Linked DNA regions of Homo sapiens. The protein of the gene in region 2 purifies or fractionates together with the protein of the main gene of each other region. This does not show direct contact. Each region holds a gene or a part of one and is shown on either strand. Other genes may lie near its edges. The genes, in order: WWP1, TMEM255A, SEC24B and COLGALT2.

The links.
Region 1: the proteins of TMEM255A (region 2) and WWP1 purify together in Homo sapiens (affinity purification with mass spectrometry; 3 studies listed by BioGRID and IntAct, with this or other methods). This does not show direct contact.
Region 3: the proteins of TMEM255A (region 2) and SEC24B purify together in Homo sapiens (affinity purification with mass spectrometry; 2 studies listed by BioGRID and IntAct, with this or other methods). This does not show direct contact.
Region 4: the proteins of TMEM255A (region 2) and COLGALT2 purify together in Homo sapiens (affinity purification with mass spectrometry, with the first as the bait; one large-scale study listed by BioGRID). This does not show direct contact.

The regions. Positions count from the first base shown.
Region 1 is NC_000008.11:86,429,372-86,433,156, forward strand, and holds part of WWP1 (NEDD4-like E3 ubiquitin-protein ligase WWP1), read left to right. Parts: intron 1-1,325; coding exon 1,326-1,380; intron 1,381-2,034; coding exon 2,035-2,119; intron 2,120-2,243; coding exon 2,244-2,372; intron 2,373-3,785. UniProt on the Homo sapiens protein: E3 ubiquitin-protein ligase which accepts ubiquitin from an E2 ubiquitin-conjugating enzyme in the form of a thioester and then directly transfers the ubiquitin to targeted substrates.
Region 2 is NC_000023.11:120,308,438-120,313,005, forward strand, and holds the start of TMEM255A (transmembrane protein 255A), read right to left. Parts: upstream 3,025-4,568; 5' UTR 2,873-3,024; coding exon 2,815-2,872; intron 1-2,814.
Region 3 is NC_000004.12:109,457,695-109,461,479, reverse strand, and holds part of SEC24B (protein transport protein Sec24B), read right to left. Parts: intron 1-3,785. UniProt on the Homo sapiens protein: Component of the coat protein complex II (COPII) which promotes the formation of transport vesicles from the endoplasmic reticulum (ER).
Region 4 is NC_000001.11:184,027,504-184,031,288, forward strand, and holds part of COLGALT2 (procollagen galactosyltransferase 2), read right to left. Parts: intron 1-3,785. UniProt on the Homo sapiens protein: Beta-galactosyltransferase that transfers beta-galactose to hydroxylysine residues of collagen.

The DNA.
Region 1 (3,785 bases), on a different chromosome or scaffold from region 2:
TCAAGAACAGGTGGAAGATAAATATTGAGTATAATTAACTGGGTCTGTTACAAGATTATATTCATCAAGATGCATATACTTTAAGAAATTATTTTTCAGGTAATGATTTTTATATTTGTCATTATTATAGAATTCTTGATAGAATACTTATATTTTCTTCAGAATATATTTCTAGGTTATAAGAATGGAGGCATACATAAAAATGTGTTTTTATGTATGTATGAAAATATAAAAGATACTAATTAAAAGTTTATTTCTATAAATGATACTGGAGTTGAGTGTTAGTTTTATTAGTGGGCATTTGTTTTAAAGAAAATTGTGATAACTGTTCTATTTTTAAACAAATAATATTGCCTCATTTAAACATCATAATTTCCTATATGTTCTTCTCCCATTTCATCTTCCCTCTATAGATTAGTATGGAAGGACTGGGAGAGTAAAGTATTGATGCCAGTGTATTATTTTTAAATCATTTTCGAAAAACTAATAATTAATTTGATAGTTGATAGTCTCCTCTTCGTGACATTTTATGAACTTAGTGTCTTGGCTGGGAGCGGTGGCTTACACCTGTAATCCCAGCACTGTGGGAGGCTGAGGCGGGTGGATCGCTTGAGCCTAGGAGTTCGAGACCAGCCTCAGAAACATGGCAAAACCTTGTCTCTACAAAAAATACAAATATTAGCCGGGTGTGGTGGCGCATATCTGTAGTCCTAGCTACTCGGTTGTTGCTGAGGTGGGAGGATTGCTTGAGCCCGGGAAGCAGAGGCTGCTGTGAGCTGAGATCACGCCACTGCACCCCAGTCTGGGTAATAGAGCAGGAAGATCCTGTCTCAAAAAACAAAGAACTTTGTGTCTTGAAATTGCTATATTTCCTTATAATGTGGACCTATCTATCTGTCTATATAATAATATAGATATATTTTTGAGACAGCTTCTCGCTCTGTTGTGCAGGCTGGAGTGCAGTAGTAGTGTGATCACAGTTCACTGTAGCCTCCACCTCCTGGGCTCAAGTGATCCTCCCACTTCAGCCTTCCAAGTAGCTGGGACTTTAGGCATGTGCCAACACATCTGGCTAATTAAAAAAAAATTTTTTTTTATAGAGACAGGATCTTCCAGGCTGGTCTTGAACTCCTGGGCTTAAGTAATCCTCCCACCTTGCCCTCCCAAGGTGCTGAGATTACAGGCATGAGCCACTGCGCCCAACCCCTTATCATATTTTTAGAAAATTATTATAAAATGTGATTCTGCCACATGCTTGGCTTATTTCTACTTTCATATTAAAACACTGTTATTTTATTTCTCTCCCTAATCTTTTCTCCAATCAGGCTTCAATGTTAGCTGCAGAAAATGACCCTTATGGACCTTTGCCACCAGGCTGGGGTAAGCTGTTTTTGCTAATGATCTATAAGGGAGATATATATCTCTCCATATATATATATATATATATATATATATATATATGTTCCTTATTTTATATATATATATCTCCCTTATATATGTCCCTTAACATATATATATCCCTTATAATATATAATATATTTAATATGGATTATATATTCTATATATTATATATTCTGTAGAATGTTATATATTCTGTATACTATATAGAATATATAATCCATATTAAATATATTATATATTATAAGGGATATATATGTATATTATATATGTATATATTATAAGGGATATATATATGTATATTATAAGGGATATATATATGTATTATATATATAATATACAGAATATATAGAATAGATTATATATTAAAGAATTATATATTATAGAATATATATTATATTCTACATAATTATCTATAATATAATATATATTATATTCTCTATAATATAATATATGTTATATTCTCTATAATATATATTATATTCTATATAATATATTCTATAATATATAAGGGATACATATATCCCTGATATGTTTTTATATATATAATATATATTATATATAATTATATGTGTTCCTTATTTTATATATAGATCCTAAATAGTTATTAAATATTATACTCACTTTATATTTCAGAAAAAAGAGTGGATTCAACAGACAGGGTTTACTTTGTGAATCATAACACAAAAACAACCCAGTGGGAAGATCCAAGAACTCAAGGGTATGTATATACAGCAGCCTTAAGTCGTCTTGCATATATCAGTAGGTAGAACCAACCAACCTTGAATGAGATATTTTTAGTACCTAGAAAAGGTTCATCTTGTGATTTTAACTTTATCTTTTAGCTTACAGAATGAAGAACCCCTGCCAGAAGGCTGGGAAATTAGATATACTCGTGAAGGTGTAAGGTACTTTGTTGATCATAACACAAGAACAACAACATTCAAAGATCCTCGCAATGGGAAGTCATCTGTGTGAGTGAAAACCTGAAGTTCTCCTTTAAATATTGCTTAGTGAGCACATGAGATTTAGTCTCTAATTTATCCTCAAGTTTAGCAAAACATTTTACTTTTTGGTTCAAGAAAACCTACACAAGTGAAACCTTAGTATAGCTGTCTTTGCTCTCATTTGACAATGGATTTGCAGCATGTAAACTATTTATGTAGTGATTACTGTGTGCCGAGGATTGTTCTAAGTACTTCATAGGTATTAACTCATTTTATCTTCCAATAACCCCTTGAGGTAGATACTATTATTTTTCCCTTTACCAAGTGAGGAGAGGTATAGGGAGCATAACTAACTGTGCAAAGTTATAAGGCAAGTAATGGAGCTGGTTTCTAACGATGACAGTCAGTCTCTGTCTAGACTCTGTGCTCTTAACTGCCACATCACACTGCTGCAATGAGATGGTCAGTGAAATGATTTTTCCAGATTTAAAGATACCTTAATTAAGCGGTTGACAGATCTCTCCTTCATTCTTACTCTAAGGTGTCATGTCTTTGCATAACTAAGAAAATAGAAGCAATCCTAAAAGGTCTTTTGCAAAGTTGTACCACCATATCTGTCCGTCTCCTACCATCTCTCCTCCCTCCTGTTCCTATAGATGAACTGTCATTGTTATTATCAAAGTCTCGTCCCTCTGCTGGTACATTCGATTCCTACCCCCACTTTTCTACTTAATTGCTCCAACAGTTATCACCTTTGTGTTGCATTATCAGGTTTTATTTCTCTACAAAATTATTCTTATCAGCTGTTATTTCTCCTAGATATAAAAAAAAAGCAAAAAAAAAAAGAAATTACAACTCTTCCCTTTACCAATGTGTTCAATCGCAGTTCATTTTTTTGTTTTTTTTTTGAGACGGACTTTCGCTCCTGTTGCCCAGGCTGGAGTGCAATGATGCGATGTCAGCTCACTGCAACCTCCACCTCCTGGGTTCAAGCGATTCTCCTGCCTCAGCCCCCTGAGTAGCTGGGATTACAGGCACCCGCCACCACACCCAGCTAATTTTTGTATTTTCAGTAGAGATGGGGTTTCGCCATGTTGGCCAGGCTGGTCTCGGACTCCTGACCTCAGGCGATCCACCTGCTTTGGCCTCCCAAAGTGCTGGGATTACAGGCGTGAGCCATCACACCCAGCCCACAGTTCATTTTTATTGCTCCCCTTTACAGGAAAGCTACTTGCATGGTTGTCTCTGTATTGCTGTTCATAGTTTCTCCTTTAAACCAACTCCAAGGAAGTTCCCCTGACACTGAATTTGCAAGGGCACCAATGATCTTCACATTGTTAATCCAGGCGTTGGTTTGCAGTCCTGCCTGATTTGACTTACCAGGAACATTTGACACAATACATTTCTCTCTCCTGGCAAAAGTAGTGCTGTGAGCCATAC
Region 2 (4,568 bases):
AGTTCTCTGGGTTGATCTTTTGAACCGATTAGGATTTGCTTACCTGAGTCAGCTTTGCCACACAGGGTGGGTCCCCGGATATCCCAGCCTTGAGTATCCCTAGAAACAAGTGGCTGCCCACACAAGGGCCTCAAGACCCTGCCAATCTCCCAAACATTTCCTTAAAGGCGCTGAAATCCATCCCTCCCCACTTTAGACAGTTCTCTGAATGGAGAACATCCGAGGCCGCCCGCGAATTACAAATGTGTTATTTGGGAGGAAGGAATGCCCTACTGTAGTAGAGGTGCCTTTGCGCCTGGGGGCGGTGTTGCCAAAAGGGAGAAGGGGGTTGCTGGGAGGGGATGGGGGGACACTGGAGTCAAATTACCATCTTCTTAATTGCAAAGCGCCTGCTCCACTCTGAGCCTTGGACGCACTGCTCTATTCCCAGGCAGCCAGCAAGCGTAGAGTGCAGGCACCTTGGTGCAGTGTGTCTGCGTGTTTTAAATTTTATTGTTTTGGTTGCGGTTGTGTCTTGACAATAAAGGGAGTCCCCTCAGAAATGCTGCCCTTGGAGGCTGAAACACTAACCTACCTACCCACTGTCCTCTTCCCCCCACGCAAGGGAAGGTGGTGTTGCCAGAGCTAAGTGGGAGTAGCTCCTAAGTAGCCTAGACGCTGATTCAGGCCCGGACTGTGCGGGACCAGGGCCAGGGAACTCCGGGGAGACTCCCCTGTCCAAACTGTGGAAACCCAGCGTTAGCACTGGACTCAGGAATTTGCCAGTGCCGTCGGTCTGCGGACTTCAAAAAGTGGAATGCGTGGCGCCGGCTCCGCTTCTATCTGGGATTTATGATTCCTTTCCCGCAGTGTGGAGACTGGGCTGGGCGAAGCCCACTCAGCTGTTTGTTGCGCAGACCTTTCGAGAAACACAAGATCGCTGAGGGCCCCTGGGAGCCCAAGAAAGAAAGCTCTTCATCTTGTTCCCCAACCCACAGAGCAGTGCGCCAAGTAGCGACTCTTTAAGCCCTGGGCCACCAACCAGCCCACTCCCCGAAGGCAGACGGGCCCGGGGCGCTGTGGCTTGATTTGCAGGTGGTTAGGTGGTTGTCGTCCGCAGCGGGAATGGACGCTGCGGAACCCCAGCACTCTTCCACTCTGCCCTCCCTCGCGAAGCGCAACAGCTTGGCGTCGGGGAGCCAGGGCTGCGTTGTTGGCGCCACAGCTGGCCAAGGTAAGCAGTGCATTCCCACCTCTCTGTCTCTCTCTCTCTCGCTCTCGCTGTCGCTCTCTCTCGCTCTCGCGCTCTCTCTCTCTCCCTCTCCCTCTGTATGTGTGTGCGCGTGGTGTGTGTGTTGGAGAAAGAGTGCGCGCGCGCGAGCTGGGAGTAAGGGGGAGTCTGGTACTGCTGGGCTCGGGATTCGGACCAAGTCCTTGGCCTCATTTGTACCCCGTTGTAAATAACTACGCCCTTAAAAATGAAAAAGCAAATTCTTATACTGAATATGCAAAACCATTGAGGATACGGATCTTTCCACCATCCAGGAGATAACACTTTCTGGGGCCCCTCCGGTGAACGAGTTTTGTTGACACTGAGTCTTCTGCGGGCAGTAGGGAGATTATATAGGGGGTTCGATCTTCTCCCTGCCCCCTCCACTCGAGATGTTCCCGCAAATTCATCGGAGAAGACCTGAGCAGACTGATGGCAGGAACTGCGGGACAGAGGGATTTTGCAGAATGTAAAGTATGTTGGAAAGAGAGAATTCGATTTGATTGAAGTGTATCCGAGGCGAATTTTAAAAGATTAGGTGGGATCATGATTTTACAATCCCCTCCCGCTCTCCAGGGCTCCAAATTAATTTCTCCGCCCAGTGAAATCACAGGGCTTGGGAAGGTGCCTAACAGCTGAGGGGGACTGGGTTTGTTTTTTTTTGTAACTACCAAAAAGCAGCTTCGAGGGGCAGCCAAGTTGGTGCCCGAAGGTAGCTGTCCCCCAGTTTCTATAAGGAAAGGAGTCGAAGGGTGCCCCTCCCCCTCCATTCCGCCCTGCGAGGAAAAGCGCGACTTCAGAAGATGCGCGGGCTCGCGCTGGATGTTTCTTTCTCGCGCTCTCACTCCTGCCCCTGACTCCCTTTTCACACTCATGCACATTCCGTGCATTTGGAGCAGAGTAACAATCAAATTCAAAGAATGTTGATCCCGCCGCTGCAGAGGGCAGGGCTGGGCTGTCTTGAGTGATTCCTCAGGAATTCCCCTCCCCTCATCCCCCCCTTTCTTCTCACCCCCGCCCATCCCCCAGAGTTGCGCAACCCGCCCCCCCCCCCCAATCAGCGAGGTGCAAGTCAGGCCCCCACCCAACTGCATCTCTAAATTTCAGGGCAGCTTCAAGAGAGTTGGGAGGGGGCGAGGACCCTGCTTCTAATTGTCGTTAGTCGTGAGCTCTTAGAAGTGACCAGGACTTTGCAAAGAGGGAGTGTCGAATGGAAAGCGAAGGCGCAGGTTGCAGGGAAGTGTTTTGATCCTCAGATTGCTGGGATTTACCACCGACTGCAAGTCTGTAGACACACGCACACAAACAGGCACACACCCGCACTCCGGGGCAGAGATACTCCGACGCAAGCTTGGCGCTCCGATCTCCGCACGTCGCTCCCGCTGCAGCCAGGCCGCTCCCCTGGGACTCTGGTCCACCACCCAGACGCTGGGGCGCGAAGACCACCCCATCCATGCCCCGTTTCCCGCTCTCCGGCTTTTGGGGCAGCTGGGGCGTTCACAGTCCAGAGGCCAGGGCACTCAACCCCTGCTGCCGCCGCCCGAAGGAAGGGCCGCTAGACTTACCCATGGAATCGGGCAGGGACATGTCGCTGGACCGCTGCTGAGTCAGGGACTGATGCATGGTGAAAACTGCCCGGTTGCCCCAGTCCCCGAAGCTGCTTCAAGCGCCCCCGGCTCTGGGCGCCCCGCAGAGCATCCTACTCCGCGGTTGCCTCTCTCGGTCCTTCCGAGAGCTGAGAGACACTGCCTCTGGTTGCGAGCTGCAGCCCAAGTGCCGCCTCCCCCTCCCTTCCACTCTTCTCCCTCCCTCCTCTTCTGCCTCCCTCTGCTCTGGGAGGCAGCAGCATTGGCGGTCCGTGCAGCCGCGTGCGCTTGCGCAAGACCCCCCCCCTCCTCCCTCCCCCTCAGTCTCCCCATCCTAGTTATCCACCTCCCAGCCTTCCAAGCCAGACAGGGAGCAGTTTTAGCCCCTTGGGGCCAGGGCTGCGCAGAGAAAGAGGGGGAGGCTTCAGTATGAAGCCAACCAACCTTCTCTATAGTTGGACAGGGTCTTGGGTAATTATCCTGTTCTAGGATTTATAACTGGGGAGGGGGTCAGAGTCAGAGGTTCAGAGCTGAGGAACACACACACACACACACACACACACACACACACTTGAGCAGGTCTGGTCTTAGTGCTTCCAGAATGACATAATGGAGCTGGAGATGATCCAGAGAAGGGCCACTCTATAATCAAAGGGATGGTGTGTGTGGGGCGGGGGGAGGGTGGTGGCTGACATATGAAGATAGATTAAACAAACGCAGACTCTTTAGTCTAGAACGATGAAGGCTGGGAAGTGATGTGACCAGAGTGTATAAAATTATGCAGAGACGGAGAGAAGGAGCACAGCCTTATTCACCAGACCTGAGAATTCTAGAACCAACAGCCCCCAATCTTTAGCTAGAAAATTCAGCTAAAGTATAACTCTGCACCAGAACCCCAGTTTGTACTGTTCAAGTGCTTTTATAACAAGGATCTCATTTTATCATCATAGCAGCCATGCAAGGGAGGAAGAGGAGTTATCAATAACCCCATTATGCAGAGGAGGAAACTGAATCTCAGAGAAGGGAAGAAAATATCCTGTGCCCACTCAGCTAGTAAGTGGCAGAAGTGAGAGCTAGAACCTAGATCTGTTGGACTCCAAGGTGAGTGTTCTTGCTATGGCGACTGAAAAGAACTATTATTCTCTATAGCAAATGGAAAACCTAAGGAATTCATTAGCTCCAAAAGATGCAGCAAGATGAAAATGCAAGTAGCTTTGGAAAGAGTGAAAGTAAAGTCATGGCTGACAGATCCACTGTGGATTACTAAGGGAAACTGGGGATGAGGTGGGAATGTCATTGATCTTGGAAGACAGCCAAATCCTTCTCGAACCTATCCTTTTGGACCCCATTAGGATATTGGGCTTGAAGCACCTTGTGGTTGGACCAAAAGGTGGTTTGAATGTTCTCAAAACAACTGCAGATCAGGATGAGGCCTCCTTGGAGTGCCCCCAAGACATCTATCTGGTGGCCAGGGGAGGTGGAGGGTGAGGAAGCGGGTAACAGTGGACTCCACCTCCCTCTGGGAACAGCCCTGGAAGCCTAACATAGCTAAGAGAATATACCTATTTGGAGGTGCCCATACTGTCCCATTGAGGAGCTCCCAGGCTCTGCTTGCCAGGTCTCCTTCCAACCACCTCCTTCTGATGGTTGCTGCAATCCTTTCTCCATGTTCCCCGAAAAACCCAAACCAAATCAAGTATAAAACTATTCTAAGAGTCAATGGGATGAAGAAG
Region 3 (3,785 bases), on a different chromosome or scaffold from region 2:
TAGAGATATAACATTATTCACCAAATCTCCATTGATGAATATCTTGGGGTTGAACTAATCTATATTTATGAGGTCAACTTTTATGATGAAGCTATAAGACAAATTTCTAGAAGTCAAACTGGAAGTTCAAAAGGTTTATGTTTTTAAAATTGACATTATTGGCAAATATCTCTTAAAAGGTCTATCAATTTATACCTCCCATCAATAATGCTTCATATTGCCTCATTGTCCCAATACTGACTATATATTAATCTCTGCCAATCTGAAAAGTGAGAAACACTTTAGTTTACAGTAGTTAACTTTGAATGATGCTGAGACTCTCATTTGGGTGTCTTTCTCTGCTGTTTGCTTTTTCTGTAGCATTGCGATTTCCTTAATGATTTCTAGCTGTTCTCACACAGTAGAAAATTAGCCTAATGTTATGTGCTGTAAGTATTTCCCCCAGGTTACTGTTATGTTTTCACTTTGTTCATGGTATCTTTTGCTATAGTTTCTTGATTATGTAGTAAAATTCTTTTTTTATGCTTGACAGATTTTTAAATCATACTTAGTAGAGGTTTCTTCATTTCAAGATTATAAAACTATAAAACCATGTTTTACTCTAGTGTTTTATACTTTCATCTTTATATATCTTTGATAAGTATAGCATATATTTATTTTATTAATACCAACAAAACATTAATCCTAATATTAGTCTTATTAATATTAATATATTAATATATTACATTATATGCCATTCACTGTTCTAAATGCTTTACATATATTAACTTCTTTAATCCTCTAAAGTAAATAGTATTATTATACCCATTTATCAATAAGTGAGCCACAAAAGTCAAGATGTTTAACACAGTTACATGCTTAGGAACTAAATGGGCCGGAATTTGAATCAGGCAATCTGGCTCAAGTTTATGCTCTTAACCAATGATCTGCTGTCCTTTGCTACAAATGGCCAATTGTCCCAAAAACAGAATTCTAGTTTTAGTTCCAATTACTTTTCTTTGGGTTTTGGGCAAATCTTAATTATCTTGGAATCTAATTTTTCTGTCTTGTGGAAGGAAACAGGTATCTGTGCCATATCTCAAATCAAAGGATAATTTAATAGAAAATTGACAAGATGTTTTAGCTCCACTGACACAAGTACACAAAGGAAGTACCACTACACTCCTTGCCATAATAATGTATTAAAATACTTGTTTATAAAAGAGATAAGAATAAAGCATACATTTTCTAATTGTTTTCAATTTGTACTAAGTAATGTAATGGAATCTTCATTTCTGGTCATGTAATATATATTCTACGGCCAGCATAAAAATAACTTACACAGTCAAGCTGTAAGGGAAAAATATCATCTACATTCCTCCTATAATTCCAAGAAGTATACAGAAAACCAAAATACTGATAACGCTATTTTACTAGGTGTATAATTTACTTTTCTTAGATTATTTTAGATGGTAATAATTCATCTGAAAGAATTTATTTACTTAAGGAAATAAAGTCTGTTAGGATCTTTCATTAACACGACAAAAGTAAAATGTTGTCCTCCTTTCTCCTATTTAAATATATTAAAAGATGGATCTGCTACCTTTCACTGTAGTGTCAGAAAACTCTACACTAGTAGAATTTATCAATGAAGAGCCAAGTCAGATTTAGAGAAATCTGTTCAAATATCTACCCACTTAGTGACTGATCTGGCATATCCATGCTACATGATCTGAAACGAGAAATAATCATTATGTCCCAACTATTCAAATGTCATTCTTTTAAAAATAACAGGAATGTCCTAGCTGCTGAAATTTATCAGAAGTGAGTTGCCCACCAGAATAAGTCTATTTACTTTCTAGCCTATCAAAGAAAGGTACTTACTCCAGGAAAACATGGGGGGTGGGAATATCTAATATATCTAATCATATGTGGATGCTTACTATTTCATACTTTATATCAAGACCTAAATGTTCCCAATGTATAAAAAAGTATCTGAAAGTAATTAAAGTTAATAAAGACAAATGTAAATCATTTTTAACATGTATTCAGTATTTTTAAATTACTGAGATATTTTGCTTTTTTGTACTATTTCTTCAAAAATCATTATGTATTTTACACTTATAGCACTTCTCAATCTGATCAACCATATGTCAAGTACTCAACAGCCATGTACAGCTAGTGGCCACCACACTGGATGGTGAAAGTCTACAGCATATGTCTATGATTCCAGTTGTTTCTGCCTCTCATGACAGATTAAATTTTCTGCCCTCAGTGTTTTCCCCCTATTCTTTTCTCGTGTACCTGCTTCAGTTTTCTTCCACATTTATTTAAGCTCTATGGCCTCCAAATATTGTATTCCAAGAAAGAACTATTTTTTCGAAGAGTAGAGCAACACAGTGCATTATGTACACATATACATATATTATGTTTAACTTATCTGAATAAAAAACTCTTGTAGTAATTATTCATCTGTGATCTTTCTTGGGATTCAAAATGATTCTGCAGCATGTATGAAAAGACTGCTGGTATTTTAATACTTCTAAAATAGACATAAAAGTTGTGGAGGAAAAAAATTTGTTACATATATAGTAAAATTTCTGAAAAATAACTTCAGAAGTACTTTTCTTATCACAAATGTGATACAGTCATTGTAAAAAAAAAAAATACAGAAAGTGATCAAATAAAAATCATCTTAATCTTCCCGAGATAACCTGCTAACATTCTGATGTATATCCACCCAGTATTTTCTTTTTGCATATATATGTATAATTTAGTTAAGCAAAAGTGGGATTATAATGTATCTTTTAAATGATTCCTTCATTTAGCATGATTTGAATATCTTTCCATCATTATTTTTAATGTCTGAATAGTATTCCATTACATGAATTTACCATATTTTAATCAATTTTCTATCTGCCATTTAGGTTTTCATTTTTTTAACATAAACCACCTAATAAATAGATCTGTAGGTAATTTTTGTGTTCATTCACTTTACTAAAAATAACTTCCTACCAGTTGCAATTGTTGGGTCAAGTCTCTAGTTGGCAGCTTAACTGTGCAGAAGTGGGAGATGTCAGGATGCCCAGCAATAAGGGAGGTAGAGATCAGAATCAAAGTGGGCCCAGAAGCCAAATTTGGCAGAGACTGCAAAGTCTTTATAAATCTATTCCAAAAATGAAAAGAAAATATATTCCAAAAATTGGGGGAAAATGTTACCAGTAAATGAACAGACAAGGGATATCGAGAGAAATGAAAACTATTTAAAAAATATTCAAAATAAAACAAATAAATATGCTAAATGGTCTCTACAGTATGGCAGAAGACTTAATGAACCTTGATTAAGTTGACCAACCTTGAAGATTGGTTAAGAAAATGATCTAAGAAACATAGAGAAAAAAAAAAGGCTGAAGAAAAATGAACAAAATTCGAGAGACCTGTGGGACAACACATAGCAGTCTAACACTTGTAATAATCAGTAAAGCATGTAGTGGGCTAAAGAGTGGCCCGCTAAAAGATTATGTACACATCCTAATCCCCCCAATCCTGTGAAAATTACATGGAAAAGTGTGATTATTGCCTTAAATGACAAAAGACATGCTTAGGTTAAAGATCTGGGGAAGAGGAGCCTCTCTTGGATTATTTGAGTGGGTTCTAAATGCAATCACATGTATCTTTATAAAATATACATACAGAAGAAAAGACATACACATAAACAGAGAGAAGGCAATGTGAAGTTGGAGCACAGAGTGATGTAGCCACAAGCCAAGGAATGCCAACAGTGAGACAAGTAGGAAGAGTCAATG
Region 4 (3,785 bases), on a different chromosome or scaffold from region 2:
TGGGAAACACTAGTTGAATCCAGCAGCCTTACACTAAAGGGTTGGCAGAACAATGGTAAGGACCATGTCCACTCATGGACAATGAACTAGACCAATGGGGACAAGTCACTTTTAGGCCACCTCAATTACTAATTTCAACATGATTACCTGGATTTATCCACATAGACAATCAGTGATGGTGGAATAAATAAAAGGATGTAACATTTTAAAAATCCATTGTTTTAGAAATCCATAGTTTGTCTTGCTAAATAAAAAGCTTACAATGGAAACCAACGTACCCAATAAATTTTATTAAAATCTAACAAGATTGAGGAAAGGCAGAGAAGAGGCTTGTACTTTTCTAAAATATTTTCGTATGCTGGCTGTTTCAAGCCTTACATGCCAATTCCACAAAATCCATTTGCAACACAAGAGATGGTCTGACTGTCTGAATACTCTCCCGCCCAACCTGTTTCTAGCACAAGGAAAGCAGTGGCGTGGAAGCTGCATATAAGCTTACTGTTCAATGGTGCAGTGATGACATGAAAAATCCTGATTCCACTTGGCAGCAACTTTCCACTATCTTGGCGGGTGTAAACCATAATCATTGTGGTGTGTGGTGCTGAGACAGGATTATGGGGCTGGCTGGCAACCAAGAAACTAAAAAACAGTCTATTAGTCCAGCAAGGGACTCCGTGTCGGGAATGCTATGGCCCCAAATGTCTACAACCACACTTTTCACAACTATCCCAAGAATTTAAGTTCTACTGTTAGTCTCTAGAAAATTCTACCTTTCCCAAGACTCTAAAATGCAGCAGTTTCTCACTTAATATGGCTTTCAGGGAGAACACCAATCAATGTACCTCCACAGACTCTCCTGTCTTAGAGTTATGTCTCTCTCTTGTGAGAATGAGATACTTGCCTTCACCACTGCCCTCCCCATCTCCAAAACATATACAATCACTCTCAGAAAGAAAAGGGACTGGAAAGAAACAGTCCTACTTCCCTCTTGGCAGCAATTGTATGCACTTTGGGCTTGGCAGTCCAAATGGGGAAAGCTCTATGTAAGGAACCTCCTCTCTGCAGCCTGATGTATCCCTCAATAGGTCTTGAAGTGATTCAACCTGGAAGGTAATGAACTATTCCAATAAAGCCAATGTGTGAATGAAATCAGGTACTCATGAAAATGCTTCAGCTCAGCAGCTTGTCCCAGACTCATCTTCTACCATACTCTTGGGGGTATACAGCCCAAGATCACTATTCTAAGATCATTATTTATGTTATTATTTGTGTTTCTGAAAGACATATCTTCTAAGATGTCTTCAAACATTAATCAGAAAACACTGGAGGGAAGGAGATTATTTTGCATTATGTTTGCAGAGGAACAAAATCTTATCAGTTAAACCAACAAGTCAGGGGACAGGCCTTAGCTTGCTGAATTTGACAAACAACTAAAATAATAATTGTTGCTTCAATTAAGTGAAACACGTTACAAAGTCAGCCCTAGCAAGATGTCATGGAGCTATTATTCAAAGTCTAACTCTGAAAGGATTTCTGTATGGTGCTCCTAGAGAGGAAAAGAAACGCCCTGCAGCCAAATCTGAGGTTTAATTCATGCAAGAGACTTGGCTAATGCCACCTACCACAAATGCTGCATTTTCACGGATCTGAACTACAGAAAGTTCCAGCAAATTAATTACAGCCACTCTATTTATATTCTACCTGACTTTTCAATTATTACCTATAATGAGATTTTTATTTTTATGAACATTAATGCACAGCTTTCCTACCAGAGGAGTAGAGAGCTAAGGGAAAAGTAATACAATCCTGATCCTTTTACCACTAGGTCACTCGCTGGCAGCTTGCCAAGCCTGCTGGTTCCCCAAAGTAGTTACTGCTTGGGTCCTAGGGTTCCTTCAGCAGCCTGAGGTGGGAGCAAAGCTCACCACCCAAATGTCAACATGGGTCAGGCAAGTCAAGTCAAAGAAAGACAGCGGGGACTAACTGCAAGTGCACACAGTGTGGGTCTGATGGGGACTGGGCTGCCTGGACAAAATCCAGGGGACAGCAGCTACTCAGCTCCAACAATAGTTGCTGTGTATGAATCCAGGCCTGGCAAGGTCAGGTGCTGGTTACATGGCATGTTTTGTCTGTGAAAAGTTACCAAGTTATACATTTATGATATATGAACTTTTGGATAAATATTACACCTCATCAAAAAGTTTTTTTTATTAGGGCCAGACCTTCTAGAGGCCAGAGAGACAAGGACAAGAGAGCAGGACGGGTGTTATCAGAGAGGCCTTCAGAGTACCTGCCTGGAACAGGTGTTATATGAAGCTGGCTTTTATTGTGCCACCCAGGGCATGGCTGTAGATAGGCTGGCAGTGTTTAAAGAACATGGGATAGAGAGATGGATTTTAAAATATCACACTTATCCAGAACTGGATATGTAAAACACTCATATTTGGGTTAAAATGAAAAGGATATATGTATATGTATAGAAAGTTTCTAGAAAAATATGAAAGAAAGTGTTAATATTGGTCACTGGCAGGTGGTATAGAGTAGATGGGAGATTTACTTTTTGTGATATTCCCAATCATACTTTTTTTATTACTTTCCCATTTAAAAAAGTCAGAAGAGCAAATTCTTAAAATAACTGAAGTACTATTAAAAATCCATAAAGACCCTAAGGGATTCAAATTTTTAAAAACTAACAATTTTTGATATGCTAACAACATATCAATTAAATGCAATTAAATGAACAAGTCACTCTTTTGAAATAAAAATGTCAAAACATAGAATACATACGTTTTGTAATTCCTGATGAATAATAGCTATAATTTAAACACATATGGTAAAAGTTCTTCATGATATGGTAACTGGGGAATAGGTGTAGTGGCCATACCATAGGCTAATGATTTTCTTTCAGACTTTACTGTATGTTGTTATGCTATGTCAAGAAATATGCAGAAACAAGCCTTATTATTGTCCTACTATAGTCCTATATAAGCCTTATAATGGTCCTACTATACTGTGCCATAGACTTGGAGACGGTGCCACACAGCAATATGACCCAAGTGCACGTTTAAGTGTTGGAAAAAGAACCAAGAGACAACCAGCAGCCTTCTCAGTTACAAGGCATTCATTGTTCATTCCTATGACCACCAGAAACAGACAAGCAAAAGGAACCTAAGAAGCACATGCTTATGTATTTGGAGTCACAAAGAAACTCCCTGGCCTAATCACTTGGATAAAGGAGCTAAAAACAGATCTGAGAAAACCAAACTCTGCTTAAAATACTCCCCATGCTCCTTTAAACCAAGAAGGATATTCATTATAAAATAATCAGCATTAAAACAGCTACACAGGATTAAAAATCTAGAAATCAGTTATCTCATTCCATAATCACCATGGGAATCTCTTAACTGCCCTGTGCTTTAGATGCCTCATCATGGAACTCAATATAATAAAACCAGGGCAACTTAGGCATTCTTACTAATTCTGTAGTTAAGCTGTCATAACTGGAACAACAGGATTGGTGTCATTTATTAGTCACTTCAGTTTTTACCCAGAGGAAATATTCTGAGCTCCAATCATATTTTGAAATTGGAGGTTGCAGGGAGGATTGATAATTTCTTCAATCATTTGGAATGAAGCTGAATTTAGGGGACAACCAAATCTAAGACTACTGATTAAAAAGCCTGAAAAATGGAATCTCTATTTTACCAATATGAACTGAAAATGTAGCCAATACGTGTATGATTAGTGCCACCTTAATCATTTGCCACTAATAATACTTGAGAAAT